2 separate regions of the Homo sapiens genome follow, and region 2 is linked to region 1. A link means that fine-mapping ties the variant in region 1 to the expression of a gene that starts in the linked region. Tissue or cell type: fibroblasts. Region 1 holds a variant in brackets; the other region holds the start of a gene. All regions are shown on one strand. Distances are between the middles of the regions.

The links. PIP is the estimated chance that this variant, and not a neighbour inherited with it, causes the effect.
Region 2: NDNF starts here. The variant in region 1 is fine-mapped to the expression of NDNF in fibroblasts (GTEx, PIP 0.90).

Annotation. Positions count from the first base shown.
Region 1 is chr4:120,439,009-120,447,118 of GRCh38, forward strand. No RefSeq gene overlaps it. Among named protein-coding and RNA genes, the nearest start is that of MAD2L1-DT, 380 kb to the left of the region's middle. The variant G/C (reference allele first, on the strand shown) is at 4,515.
Region 2 is chr4:121,069,249-121,077,351 of GRCh38, forward strand. It overlaps NDNF (neuron derived neurotrophic factor), which reads right to left and starts at 3,287. Exons shown (of 4, transcript NM_024574.4): 1 at 2,745-3,287. NDNF-AS1 (NDNF antisense RNA 1) reads left to right here and starts at 2,114. Exons shown (of 3, transcript NR_187407.1): 1 at 2,114-2,332; 2 at 4,502-4,616.

The DNA of each region.
Region 1 (8,110 bases):
TTACATTTTGGGTTCACATCCTCATAATGTCTCATCTGACTCACACACCTGAACATAACATTCCCCTAGTCAGGGCTCTCCTAGAGAGTGGTTATCTTGAAGAGTGATATCTAGAACAAATTTTTAAAAATCATAATAGAGATTACAACAATTGGTTATTGTTTATTAATGAGCATACATACATTTGAGAATTGTCAAATAAGGAAGGTTAAAAGAGAATTATCAAACAAGGAAAAGAGACTGGGGCCTTGCTTTAGCTTATATGTGCCCCCCCAAATTCATGTGTTGGAAACTTAAGACCCAATGCAACAGTGTGGGGAAGTAGGTTTTAATGGGAGGTGCCTAGGACATGAGGGCAGAGAAGGGCTTTCAGGACTGGACTCTCTTACCTTTCTACTTTCTGCCATGTGGGAATTCATGTGCAAGGTGCCTTCTCGGAAGAGGGGAACAGCCTCTCTAGACACCAAAACTGCAAGTGCCTTACCTTACACTTTAGACTTGCCAGCTTGCAGAACTGTGAGCCAGTAATTTCCTGTTCATTATAAATTAGAATCTCAGGTGTTCTGTCATAGCAGCGCAAAATGGACTAAGATAGAACTTTTAACCCTTTTTTAATCTGTCTGTGACTTGGTGCTCTTTGCTACTTTATATATTATGATATTAAATTCCCCCAACAAACACGTGGTAGATTTGAAACAGAAACATGAGAGGAAAATGTCTTGCTCCTCAGCAAATGTGCTAGTCAAGTAGAAACAGGTGGGGTGACCTACTTTGCATTTTGCATGGATGAAAAGATTTCAAATTTATTTTTCTTGTCTTAGGGATTTGTATTCCCAAAATTGAAAACAGTTTAAAATAGGAAAGGTGTGAGCTTATTAGCACAGTAATACCCTCTAAATTCTCACTCCCTGGTGAAAGTAGAAAAGTGCTAATTAATCAATTGCTCAATTAAGATAGGCTCTTAAGAGCACTTTTGTCCTGGGAAAATATAAGCAGCTGATAATCTGCCTTGAGAAAAATGCATCTTACAGGAATTATGTTCAAAGTAGAGTATTTGGGGTACAACCCTCCAGATGAAAATGTATTTATTACTGACAGATTAACTCTCACTTGAAGTCCTTAGTTTTGAGGATGAATGTTCTCCGATGAGACAATATTATACATAGAAAAAATGAACATAAAGTTTACGCTTCTTTATTTACTCATTTAAGTAGTTATTTGTTGGATGTCTATGCACCTTCATAGGATTTTGTGAGGCTTTGATAATCTACACAAAGTGCTTGGAGGTTGTGATGTAAAGGAAAGATAATATTCAGATGAGTGAATATCATCCAAGTAATGTCTATCTTCAATACCACAAGTGCAGTAGTAGATATAGCCACATATTTTTCATGACCTTATTAACAAGCAGGGTGCTGTACTAGAGATGAAAGAGATGGAGACCTTGATCACAGAGGACAAGCTGGGGCATGCATAGGAAGGGAGGCTGCACAGGTACCAAAAGCCAGATCATCAGAAGACTTTGTGGGCTATGTGAAGAAATTTAAACTTCATTATGGGAAACCATAAATTGTTTTAAATTATGAATTACTGTGATCAGTCCTGGTTTTTAGAATAAGTCTGAGGTCAGTGTGGGGGCATAAGAAGAGTAAGACTTAAGACTGAGACAACAGACATGTGCAAATCACAGAGAAATCTGAGGAGAAAATCTGGAGACTTAAGTTAGAATACTAGAATTCCCATTAACTAGCCGTGTGATCTGACCAATAAACAAACCTCCCTGAATTGCCGTTTTCTAATCTAGAAAATGCTGTGATAAGAAGAAGCAGTTCCACAGACATGAAGTTCAAGCTCACTGGGCTCCCTTCAGTGTTCTGTTTCACAGCTGAATAGGCAGGTTCCTGACACAGTTGGACCCAAGGGGCCCCAGGAATCTGCACGTACCCCATGTTCATCCTTCTGCTTTCATACTTGTCCTCTGGTTGGTTTTCATGCTTTCTCTGACATTTTGCCTTCTAACTGAATCCTGTTCCCCTTTCTAGCCAGTTGCAAAGAAGCTGGTTAGACTACATATTGGCTTTTAATGTCAGAATCTCTCTTTTGAATCATCCTCTGTTCCATGATCAGTAACCGCCTCACCAGCCTGCTCTGCCCTGAGAACCAGCCCACTTCTCCAGAGGTACTTTGTGTCCTTATCAACAGCATTATGCTGAACACATATTAGGATTTCAAAAGATGTAGCTGAACTTGCCACAGTGGTCTGTGATCTTTCCTGTCATCTGGCCCAGGCAGAGAAACTTCTTGCTTCATGTCAGGAGCACATGTGGCATCACTGGAGACATTCATGATAATTCTAGGGTGTGAATTGATATTTGCCAGGGCATCATATTACTGCTGAGCTAGTACCTATTTACTTCTCTTTGCTTTTCTACTTGGTTTTGATCTCTATTTGATACATTTCTTTCATTCTTTTAGTTATCTGTTCTTCTGGGACTCCAGGAATAATGAAAACTAAAATAACATTTTAATGTTATATTTTATTAAGGTTATATTAAATGTCAAGAAAAAGAGTAAACAAAAGATAGAAATTTTCCTCTGATTTCATTAAAGTGATGCTAATAAATGTCACACAGCTCATATCACTCAGTTGACCAAACGAATTACACAAAATAACATGGCCAAATAACTATTCTTTCACACTTATACTTTTTGTAGTATTCTTTAGAGTTAGAACAAAGTAAATATCTCGCCCTGAAAGTCATACTTGCCATCAACTTTTCTCTCTTTAATGTTAATTCAATTGGTTACCAACAAGGCCAGCTATAATATAATTCATAATCAATAAAATAAATACTTGTCATGTGTCTGGTATTGCAAGTAAATCTTCTATCCCCCCTCCTGGTGTTTTCTTCCAAAGACAAGGAGCTCAATAAGCATAACGCTCCTGAGTTTTCTTTCCCTCTTTGTTTGTTGTACTCTGAGTGCTGAAGCACATTAGTGGTATACCTGTATCAAAGTTGGCAAGAATTTCAAGTACATGGTTTTTAAGACTAATGACCCAGTGTTGTGTGTATATGAAATATGAAAGAATGAAAGAAATGTATCAAATAGAGATCAAAACCAAGTAGAAAAGCAAAGAGAAGTAAATAGGTACTAGCTCAGCAGTAATATGATGCCCTGGCAAATATCAATTCACACCCTAGAATTATCATGAATGTCTCCAGTGATGCCACATGTGCTCCTGACATGAAGCAAGAAGTTTCTCTGCCTGGGCCAGGTGACAGAAAAGATCACAGACCACTGTGGCAAGTTCAGCTACATCTTTTGAAATCCTAATGTGTGTTCCGCATTATGCTGTTGATAAGGACACAAAGAAGATTGTGCATTCATGTTTTTCAATACTACTGAGAAGAAAAAAAAAGGTTGAAACCTTTTTCTTTTTTTTAATTTTTCACCTCCTTTTTTATGTAGGATATTGTAAATAGTATAACATAATCGCGTCTACACATCTAAAGCAAAAAAGATGGTTAGCATAGCGCTGACTGTGGCAAAGAGTAGAGAGGGAAAAATGTACCTAGCAAGGAGCAATCCCTTGTACCTGTAAATGAAAAAAATATATATTTTGTAAGTTAAGACATATTTCTTCCTAATCATTTTCCAATATTTTTACTAGCTTTTCATCACATATTTAAAATATTCATCTTTACTTTCCAATTTAAAATGAACTCTAATCTTTGATTTCCAAGATAATTCAACAGAAACAACACATACACTGAAGATAAACTATTTTGTGAGATATACACTTGCGTATTTGTATAAAGAATCCAGGAAATAAAATGACATAAAGATGATATATGAAATAATTTGATGAATATTAAAGGTAATATCGAAAAAGTAAATAGTAAGCAACAATTGTGGTAAGTTGGTCAAGTGGAAGCAAGTGTAAAACTAAATAATTACTAAATGTGATTACAGACTACTAGGGAAGAAGTTGAAAAGTGGATTGGCTACAGATAATGGATGCTATGTGACTAACGACAAAGATTTCTGTTTCTTTAGGCTTCTGAGAACAATGTTGGTCCCATAACCTGGATGGAACTGCGCTTGCATATGGACACTAAGTAATGCCAGCTGTGAGGATTAGAGGGCCATAGGGACGCAAACCAGGGAAGATATTACAAATTCCTTGAAAATTTTGTTGGCACAGCTTCCTGCAGTCAGATTGCTCATATAGCATAACTGCCTTAAAAATGTTTAAAGTTCCATCACAAAAGCCAAAACCTTTTGTTGATAAGATGGGTTTAATGCAGTGAGTCTCACACTTGGCTAAACATTAGAATCATCTAGGGAGCTTTAACAAAATACCAAGGTTCAGATCCCAAGAGATTATGATTTCATTGGTCAGGGATGGGGCCCAGGCATTGGTATTTTTAAGCTGCCCTAGAGATCTGAATGTACAGCCAAAATTGACAAGTCTTGGATTCCTGGTTAATAGCTCAGAATCTAGAGTCATA[G/C]TGGTTGGTTTAAATATGTCCCTGCTCAGCCTCTTCCTAGCTGCGTAACCTTGGAAAAGTGATTTACATAGTATTCCTCTATTTATCTCTTTCTCTCTGCAGTGTGGATAAAACAGCACCTATCTAAGGACTGATCTAAATTTTGCAGAGTCAGAATCTATTGCAATTTTGAAAACTCTCTTTGAGAAACAGAATATGTAACATTATTAATGTAAACAGGTACAGAGTAAATTTTTCTTTAGAATGATAAAATATCTTACTACTAATTACACATTTTTAAAAGCTGACACATTCAGAAAACTAACATCAATTTTTACTTAATTACCTAACAGTGTTTTCTAATATTTTTTCTAATTTTTTTGCCTGCATACCCTTTACCTCTTCACATGACAATTATTTTTCATTCTTTTTTTGTGAAGAGTATAAAAGAATTCATTTTTACAATAGCGCAATTCATCAAAAACTATGTTTAATTACTGATAGTTTAGTAAAGTTTCTTACACCATCACAACTCTTTATTGTCAGTCACAGGTAAATATTTAGGATTGCTGTCATAATTGGGAATACTTCTTTCAAAGTTCTGTCATATGGGAGGTGTTAAGAGTTGGGAGCATTTCAAGTTTTCAAGTATTGTAACTAATCTTTAAAACTCTTTTAATAGATGAGTCTTTTAAACTTGTTTTCAGAGTTTTAGGTTGTCTTTGTTGATATCAGTACTTTTTGGCAAATCTGAAGTGATTAGCAAAGACCAGTACCAACGTGAGTAGTGAAACCCATTTAAGACTGAGAGAAGAGCACGAGCAAAGATCTTGTCTAGCAAAGGCAGGCAGTCGAATTTACAGAGTGTAGTGCACAGCCAGGGCAACAATGAGCAGCAAGCTCAGTAAAGCTCAATAAAGTTTTAGAGCCAGAGATGGAGGTGAAAAGTAGTGTCAAATGCTGGCACAGGGCTAAGGATAGAATATCTGCCTTTAAAAAAATCAAATGCCTGTGCTATATATAATGCCTATACTATATATAAATGCCTACATATATAAATGCCTATGCTATATATAAATATATATACATATATGTACATATGTATAAATATATATCTAGCATAGGCATTTGATATAGATATATATGTGTATATATACATATATACATATATAAATAAATATATAAATAAATAAACACATAAATGTATATGTACATATCTACATATCTATATATGTATATATAGCATAGGCATTTGATACAGATATATATGTGTATATATATATAAGTTTCTGTGATATCAGTTGTATATCTTTTTTTAATCTCATTTATTTGAGCCTTTTCTCTTTTTTCTTAGTCTAGCTAAAGGTTTGTTAATTTTGTTCAATTTTTAAAACCCAATTATTCATTTTGTTGATCTTTTAAATTTTTTTTCAGTCTCCATTTCATTTATATTTGCTCTGAGCTTTATTATTGCCTTTCTTCTACCAATTTTGGATTTATTTATTTTTTAAATTTTCTTGAGGTGCATGGTTAGGTTGTTTGTTAGAAATCTTTCTTTTTTGATACAGGCATTTATTGCTATGAACTTCCCTCTTAGAGCTGTGTTCCATAGTTTTTGGTACGATGTGTCTCCATTCTCATTCATCTTAAAGAATTTTTAAATTTCTCTTTAAATTTATTCATTGGCCCATTAATAGATTTGGGAGCATGTTTTTTAATTTCCATGTATGTGTAAGGTTTCCAAAGCTTTTCTTTTTGATTTCTAGTTTTATGCCATTGTAGTCTAAAAAAATACTTGATATAATTCTCTATCTTCTTAAATTTGTTAAGACTTGTTATGTAGCCTGACATTCTCTCTGTTCTGGAGAATGTCCAATGTGTAGTTGAGATGAATGTGTATTCTGCAGCTGCTGGATGAAATGTTCTGTAGATGTCTGTTAGGTCCATTTGGTATAAAGTGCAGTTTAAGTCCAATGTTTATTTTCTTTTTTCTTTTTTTTTTCTTTTTTCTTTTTCTTTGGAAACAGAGTCTTGCTCTGACACCCAGGCTGGAGTGTGGTGGCATGATCTCGGCTCACTGCAACCTCCACGTCCTGGGTTCAAGCAATTCTCCTGCCTCAGCCTCCTGAGTAGCTGGGATTACAGGCCCGTGCCACTACACCCAGCTAATTTTTGTATTTTTAGTAGAGATGAGGTTTCACCATGTTGGTCACGCTGGTCTCAAACTCCTGACCTTGTGATCAGTCCGCCTTGGCCTCCCAAAGTGCTGGGATTACAGGTGTGAGCCACTGCTCCCAGCCTCCAGTGTTTCTTTGAATTTCTGTCTAGATGATCTGTCCATTGTTGAACGTGGGGTGAAGTTCCATTCTATCATTGTATTGCAGTCTACCTCTCTCTCTTTAGCTCTATTAATATTTGCTTTATATAATGGGTGCTCCCGTTTGGGTGCATATACACTTATAATTATTATATTCTCGTGTTGAATTGATCCTTTATGATTATATAATAATCTTCTTTGTCTCTTTTTACAATTGTTTACTTAAAGTCAATTTTATCAGGCATATGTTGCTACCCCTGTTTGCTTTTGGTTTCTGTTTGCATGGAATAACTTTTTTCATCCCTTCACTTTCAGTTTATGTTTGTCTTTAACAGTAAGCAGTAAGGTGAGTCATATAGTTGGGTCTTGTTTTTTTGTTTGTTTGTTTGTTTTGTTTTTTAATTTGTTTGCTTTTTTAGCCATTCTGTCTTTTAATGAGATAATTTAATCCATTTACCCACAAGGTTATTATTGATCAGTTAGGGCTCACTCCTACCTTTTTGTTAATTGTTTTTTGGTGGTTTTGTAGATCCTTTTTTTTATTTGTCATTTTTTCCTCTCTTGTTTTATCCTCTGTGGTTTGGTGGTTTTCTGTGTTGCTAAGTTTTGTTTGTTTTGTTCTTTTCTCTTTCTCATTTGTGTATCTGCTGTAATTTTTTTCTTTCTGGTTACTATGTGGCTAACATAAAGATTGTTACGTTATGTTATGAACTGTATCTATAGCAGGGATGTAGGATGCTGTATCTATATAGTAGGAATGGGGAAAGACAGATGTTGATCAAAAGGTACAAAGTTTCAGTAATAGTGGAGGAATAAGTTTTAGTCATCTATTATCATGCATGATGACCACAGTTAATAATAATGTATTATGTATTTCAAAATTGCTAAAAGGATACATTTTTAACATTCTCACCACACACACAAAAATGATAAATTGGTAAGGTGATGGACATGCTAGCTTGATTGAATCTCTACAATGTATACAAAGACCAAAACTTCACATTATATCCCACAAACATAAAATTGCTATTTTTCAATTAAAAATAAATAAATGAATAAATAAATAAAAAAAATTTTCAACCCTGGGGATTGAGCACCAAAGGTATGAAAGGTCGTATAGTATAAGGTTAAGGTTTACATCTTGAAACACACAGACTTAAATTTTAATTCTACCATTTACTAGCTTGTAATATCTTGACAGAAATAACAACCACACAAAGAGGTAACTGCAAACCACATAAGCCCATCCAACAGAACCCAAATACGCCAACTCAACTTTTCCTTAGCCAGATCCCAAAAA
Region 2 (8,103 bases), 630 kb after region 1:
TGTGACAATAGTCTTTACTCTTTAACATTCATACTTCACCATATGAATGTTAAACAGACCCAGGACAAATAAGCTGAGGGTGGGGGCTTCTCTTGTCCTTAGAAGGATATTTTTCAATTACATATTTTGTTACATCCTAAGAGATAAAAGCTGTATCTGCAAGTGATTAAAAGATGTTTTATATTCATGGTTTCATTTCTGCTGAAATAAATGCGTAATTTAAACCAAACATAATTCATAGCAATTTAGGCCTATTACAGAGTTCTAGCTTCTTTTTTATGATAGTTACTAATTAAAACAGAGTGTTACTGCCACACTAAGCCTAAGTCTTTGACATACAGGTTTAATGAATAAAATGTCCTGACACAAAAATGAAAGCAATAATGCAGACAAGGCTGCAAGCTGTTATGTTTCAAGTGTGTGGTAAAGATTAAGGGCATTCACTGAAGTGATGAACTGTGCAGAGAAGGACCTTGTAATTTCTTTCTCTAAAGGAAGAAGTAAAGGAATTTTTAGAGAAATCTGAAATAGTACTAATTTATCTAACTCCTAGGCCCCTCATTCCCAGTTGTCCCTCTCTCCCCTCCAAGAGTTTAAACTCATAAGAGTCACTTCTGAGGAATAAATGATGGGGTATTTTAATATAATCCTGAATATAGGTTTAGATTGAAAATGGGAATTGGGACCATAATTAATTATGTTGCCAAGTTTTTTAAACTTTAAGAAGACAGATGGAGGCAAATGACATTTTATAAGAGTGCAACCTTCTAAAAGATCATAGATTAAAACTGTGGTAAAACGACAGTATCTTTTTTGACATTTGATTAATCCCATATGCAGAATGACTGAAGAATTAATACGGTTTTGGTGTTTTCACTTTCTGAAACCACTGTAATAAGAGACTGACATAAACTCAAACCCCAGTATAAACACAGTCTGAGCGAAGGTTGCGGCCTTATTATCACTCTTAACAAACAATAATGAATAATCATACCGATCGCCCTCACTACACTCTGCTTTATATACATATTCCCTCTCGGATCCATCCATCACTTCTTTCAAGATAATAAAACAATTCAATCCCATCAAATCCCCTGCAACCGCTCCCTTGGGAGGGATGTTTTATCTCTACTTCTCCGAACCCAGGGAGGATTTTACTTGTTTGAAGGGGGCGGAGAATGGAGCGGAGTCCTATTTATTTCCATTGATGACTCCCCTGGTTCTCACAGGCGCTCAGGGACCGGGTGGGAGGAGGAGAGGAGGAGGTGCGGAGATTCCCTCCGTCAGAAAAGAAAAAGGGTTCAGGAAGCGAGGCAGCAGGAGGAGGGGTGGAGGGGGGAAAGAGAGGGTAGTGTGTTTGGGGAAAGCAGCAACTAAATGAAAAAATAAACTCTTCTTTGTGATTTAGCGGGATCGACAGATGAGAAGCAAATTTATCAACCCAACAAAGTTGCTAAAAAGAACTCTGTAAATAAATTTAAAGAAAAGAAGGAAAAAACATAACAACAACAACAAAACCCAGACATACACTCAGGTTCATTTCCCGCTCAAGGTCTTGGTTTTAGGGAGCCACCCGTACCCAAGAGCAAGAAATGGACAGCGCCCCGAAGGGGGCCAGGAGGGGAACCGCAACTTGGCCGGAGGGACAGCTCAGAGACAGCGTAGAGGTGCCCGCGGCAAACTCCGAGGAGCTGATGCGGGGCGGGTCCGGGGAACTGCCGGGAGCTCTCACGCCTGGGCCTGGGATAGGGTGCGGGCAGAAAGGTGAACCGAGAGCGCACAATGCAACGAAACCGCACTCCAAATTCAGCAGTTTGCAAAGTGCCTCCAAGAAAACAGCTGGGACCTGCAATCACTCGTTCGGACTCCTAGGTTATCGGGGCCGCGGCGACTCCGCTCAGTTAGAAAGGTAGCGCGGGTGAGAGCGAACCCCAACTCACGCACAGACAGGACGAGGGCACGAAGCCGAGTCTCCTGGCTGGGGCCGTAGGGGGCGTCACCTCGGTGGCCGCTCTGCTCTCCGGAAGAAAGTATGAGCCGGTCCCAGGCCACCTCGCTCAGCCCAAGGAAGTTTCTATAACGATGCTCGCCTACCACGCAGAGGACAAATGAGGAGCCAGAGCGGTTGGGGGTCGGGCCAACCGAACTCCCGGCCCCGGCTGCGCAGCTCCCAGACGCCCACCAAGAACTCGTGCGCTGCCTGGACCTCTAGCTTTTCGCCCTACACGCAGACGCCCTCTGCAAAACCCCAGTCCCGCAGACTTTCCCTAGCGGCGGGCGGAGGGCATGAACCTGGAAAGGGAGGCAACAGCCCTCTTGGCAGGCGGGCAAAGTAAGTGTCCAGGCTAAGTCCGGGATAAAGGCTCCGCGGCTCCCCAGACCCCACTGCACCCCGAGCTCCCGGGTCCCAGGTCTTCCCCGCCCTTGCGCTGTCTGTCCACCTCCTCACATCTCTCCGGGCCGCCCAGCTTCGAAAGCAGCTAAATTAAAAACAAACAAACAAACAAACAACAACAACAATAAAAAAAAAAAAACGAGGGAAACCTGCTCCTGCCCCTCATGCCCTCAGCTCCTACGGATAGGGCGCCCTTGAGAAGCTTCTTGGGCCTTGAAGATTTGGGGGCGCGTGCCTCGAGCCCCCATCTCGGATGACCCTTCGGGCGTGAACGCTCCTTGTGCTAGGTCTCAGGGTGGCGGGCTAAGGCGTCGGGTCTCTGGGGCATTGCTTTCCTCTCCCCACTTACCTTAAAAAGATCTGTTTTTCGTAGGGAAAATAGAAAAAAATCCCTCCCCGTGGTGTGGTGTGCGAAATAGTCCACGTCCCCGGACCCTGCCAAGATGCTAAGCACCAATATCCAGGAACGAGAAGCCTGGAGGGCGGGGACGGAGGCAGATAAAAGAGAAAAATTCAATCCGCTGAAGTGTCCCAACTTTGCGGTCGGCACAGCAAACTTCAAAGGCGGGCGAGGGCGGGCGGCGCGCGGTCGCCGAAGTTGCTGCGAAGTGGAGTAGGGAGCCGCGCGGGGCTGGGGAATCCCGGGGCAGCGCCGAGAAGCGGCGGGAGGTCCTTTTAAACTGCAGGGAGCGTGCGGGGGCTGGGCGGCGGGAGGATGCCGCAGCGACCCGCGGGGCTGGCGCGGGCTTCGCCGGCCGCCGCTAGTCGCACAGGCGCCTGGCTGGAGCGCCGCGCGGGGTGCTGGGAGAGCCGGGCGCACGGGGCGGCAGCGGCCGTGGCGGGTGCGCTGCTCAGTTAGCTCCACTCTCTCGCGGCTGGAAGTGGGGAGTGTGTGTTCGCTCCCGAGTGTCACTGCTGAAGCCCGGAGTCTCTTCCCCTCCCAGCCCTAACCCCTCCCGCCTCACCGCTGCCCGCCCGCCCCCTCCCTCCTCTGCCCGTTGCCTCCCCCTCCGTCCCTCCTTCTCTCCCTCCCGCTGCGCGCCAGCGCGCACGCACACACACACACACACACACACACTCATACACATACACACACTCACACACAGACACCCTCTCCCTCCTTTTCTCTCTCCCTGTAGCCCTCCCTCCCTCTCTTTCTCTCACACACACACCACCCTGCTCAGCGACCCAGCGCTCCCCAAACAGGACCCTCGCGGGCGGCATCGCGAGGGACACGCTGCTGTCCTAACCTTAGCGCCACTCGGGGAGAATGAAGGAGGCCCACCGAGCCCCCGACAAAGCTGCAAAACCCAGGAGACGCGCACGCGGGACCATCACACTGTCAAGCAGACCGGGGTGCACAATAGAGGGAAACTCTGGGGTTGATCTGGGGGCAGGGAGGGGGACGTGTTAAATCCAGAAGGTTGGTGGTTGGAGGCGGAAAGCAGAGTGTGCAAACTGTGCATTCATGTCCCACTTTTCACCCGAACGCCTGCCTATCACAGCCTTCACTCAGGGAGCGCTTCCCCCTCGGCGCAGACCGAGCCTCCTCCGATTTGAAACTCAGCAGCTGTTTTAACAATTGAAAAAGCGGCCCTACAGGACCAGTGAAACGGAGCAGAGTGTGTGAAGCCATTAAGGCTGACTAGGTAATTATGATAAAAAGTTACCTAATTAGCAACCTGGCCTGGGCTTAGGAAAACCAAGAAAAAAAAAGTACCGAATGATTTGGTGATCTCATTTTTGCAACTGAGAACCTGATTTCCAGCAAACCTGGTTTTATATAAGTTCTAATAATATATAATTATTTATTAAGATATAGTGTCAGTATTGAAAACACTAGTTCTGTTATTGCCACAATGAAATTAAGGTAGGTAGGATGAAAATCAGCCTTATCCCGGTCATATTAAGAACTATGATCTTTTTTGCTAAACAGTTGGTCACAGAGGGTGGACCAATGCAGCTCCTAAAGTTTTGTGGTTCCTAGATGAAAACACTGCAGGAAATGGATTTATAAAACCGTTTACACGACATAAAATAGTTTTGTAAAATTTTTAAACACTGAAAAGGACATTTCAGATCACTGTGCAAGCATATTTTTTGCAGATGAGACAATGAGGTGAGAAAAGTCCTCATTGTATCTCCACTTAGGAGATACGATCTAGAGCAGATCCCTGGGTCATTCATTAACAAAGCTTACGAAGTCCCTGCTGTGTACCAGGTATGTCTTATGTGCTGAGATTTAGAGGTGATGGTGCTGCCTTTAAGGAACTCACCGCCTGGTGAGGAGACAGAGGCATAAATGAAAATGTGATTAGCACTATAATAAGTGCAGGTACCTGGTCCTGTGGAAGCATGGAAAAGGAAACAGCTAACTCCCCTTCAGAAGCTTCTCTTGGTAGAGATTTCAGTGTAGAGTTCTGAAAGACAAGGAAGAAATACAAGGCCAACAAGGATGTGGTGGAGGGGGGAGGGCATTCCACAAACAGAAGCAAGTGAAGAGGTTAGGAAAGTGTCAAAGTACATGGTGTGTCCTGGAAACTAGGAGACTAGGTGCGGCTAGACTGCAGGTGAAGTAAGCAAGGCCAAGCCACACAAGGCTCTCTGGGTGTAAGGAGCCAGAACTTGCCTGGAGGTGGTGAGTAGTTGGGAAACTGTTAAAGGTGTTAAGCTAGGACAGATTCTAAGGTTTGTAAGTATTATTAGATAATGTGTTTTAGAAGGTTTCCTCTGGTTTCACTGTGCAAGACAAATAGAAGAGAGATCACAGTGAGGTTATTTCCAGAGGAAAAATTAGGTCTGAACCAAGGCAGCAGAAATGCTGTTTGGGAGGTTAGGACAGCTCTAGAGATATTTAGGAAATAGAATAGACAAGGCTTAGTGATTGATTGGACATAGAGGGTAATGGAGAGAAGAGAGTCTAGACTGACTCCCAGTTTTCTGGCTGGTGCGCTAAGGCAGGGATGGTGCCACTAGCCAAGAGAAACACACAGAGAGGAGCAGTTTTAGGAGGAATGTAATGAGTTCTGTCTTAAACTTGTGGAGTTGGGGGTGCCTCTGTGACATCTGAGTGCCCTGCCATTTAGGCAGCCAAAAGGAAAGTTCCTAGGAGGGTAGACAGGAGCTGGAAGGATACATTCAGGTGTCTGGCAAGCATGGGGGAGGAGTAAGGCAGCCAGGAAGAGAAGACTTAGGATGGGACATGGCAGACACCAATGTCTTAGACATGGATGAAGGAAGAGGACCCTGCAAAAGAAAGGGATGAACACCAGAGAAGAAGGGCAACAGAGTAGGACCAATGAAGCCAAGGGAGGACAGGGCTAGTGACCAGGGTAGAAAGAGGCAGACAGATGGAGACAACTAGACTGAAAAGCTGCTGCTCTTATTTACAAAAAGTCTTGGTATTCTTGACCAATGCAATTTTAGTTTATGCTGCATGTATATGAGGATCACTTCCCTCTTTGGTACATTGGGGCAACACTATCTACCCCCATGCATTTCACAGGGTTGATTGGGAATTCAAATGAACCAGTGATTGGGGTATTGATTTAAAATTGCCATTAGGAAGAAACTGAGTGCTAATGATGTTAGAGAGACATCATTAATTCAGGCAATTAATGACAGACCTGAGTCTGTAGGAAAGTTCTGTAAGGACTCTGTGAATTTCATAAAATTCATCAAAATATCTGTGTTTTGAACATCAGGATTTGCATATATCAGTATACTCTGTCTTCTAAAAAAACAAGCCACCGATAAAACCAGTGGCATTGTATATATTTATATTTATATATATATGTAAGTTATCTTCAGTGTTTTGAGAGACTTGGGTAATGTGCCATATTAGATAGAACATATGTTATTTAGCCAAACAGGCTTATATTTAATTCTAGACTCTGAAAATTATTTGCTGTAGGACAAAACCTCTTTGAGCATCAGTGGCTTTTTTCAAATATAAAAATGGAATAAATTATAGTTGACTTACAGATGTTTTGTGAGGATTGGATAGTATAACATATTCAAGTGTTTGCAAGATATTTACATATTTATATCTGCATTTACTTTTAAACCAGGCAATTCTTAAATATGCAATTGGAGGAAAAAGCCAAAAACTATTATAAAACCAAGAGTGAATTTAAGTCTATTTAGGAGAACTACTGGTTGAAACCTATGTTTTAAGGCAGCAGTCATCAAACTGGGGTTCGTAGACCCATGGGGGTTTCTGAGATCCTTTCAGGGGAGGTCTGCAAGGACAAAGCTAGTTTCATATTAATTCTAAGACATAATTTGCCTTCTTTGACTGTGTTGACATTTGCACTGATGATACGAAAGCAATGGTGGGTAAACCTGCTAGCACCTTAGCATGTTCAAAGCAGTGGCACCCAACTATCCTGGTAGTTATTGTATTTTTTACTGCCCCAAATATGAGTTTCGCTTAAGAATGTCTTTGATGAAGCAGTAAAAAATACTTATTTTATTAAATTTCAACTCTTGACTATGTCTTTTTAATATTCCGTATGGCAAACTGGGAGGCACAAATAAAGCTCTTCTGTGGCATACTAAAGTGCAGTTGTTTATCCTGAACGAAGACATTTATGTAATTGATTTGTGAGCTAAACTACCTGCTTTTTTATGTGACATATTTTTACTTGAAAGAACAACTGACAGACAAACTATGGTTACTCAGACTTGGATACTTAGCAAACACTTTTTTAAAAAAATTTTTTAACAAATGAATGAAGTCAGCCTGTCATTTCAAGGCAAACAAACAGCAATATTTATTTCCAGTGAAAAACTTGAACTTTTGAGTAAAAAATTAGAATTTTTAAAACTTGTTTTTGTCACCATGAGCTTGACAGTTTCCCAGTACTTAAAGTCTTTCCTAGTAAGATCGTGATCATTTAAATGAATGTGGTTTTAGATATCGTACAATGACATATATCAACATTTGGAAGAACTGCATAGCTCAATGAACAAGTATTTTCCAAATGACTAATAATGCATCATGATCTAAAATCACGCATAAGGATCCATTCAAAATGCAAAATAGACGAACGGGTTTTAATGTAACACAGTATGAAAAGTTAACTGATATGGTTTCATATTCCATACTGCAATTATAAGGTTTAAGAAACTACCATTTGTTGAGTTATGGTGTCACGTTAAAGAAGAATATCCAGAATTGTTTGAAAAGATTATTGAAATGTTTCTTCATTTTCCAACTACATATCTGTGAAAAATTGGATTTTCCTTTGTTTGAAGATATACTTCAAACAAAATAAATTGCAACAGATTGAAAACAGACATGATATGAGAATTCAACTGTCTTTTATTAAGCCAGACATTAAAGAGATTAACAAAAATGTAAAACATTTCTTTGGAAAATAATGTTACTTTAATGTGCAGTAGGTTTACTATAGTTATTTAAATGAATTAATAAATATTTTAAAGATTTCTGTTGTAATTCATAGGTTGACTATTGAAAGAAATAACCTATATAACAAAAACTCCTTGGGGTCCACAATAATTTTCAGACTGTCAAGTGGCCCTAAGAACGACTGTCATATGAACTAGGCTCACTCATGAAAGAAGGTTGAAAGATCATCAGAAGCTTATGATAATATTCTGCCCATGGATTGGCCATCACCTCAGTTGTATTGTATAATACAATTCTCATTTTACACAAATGTAAATAGATCCTTCTATACATA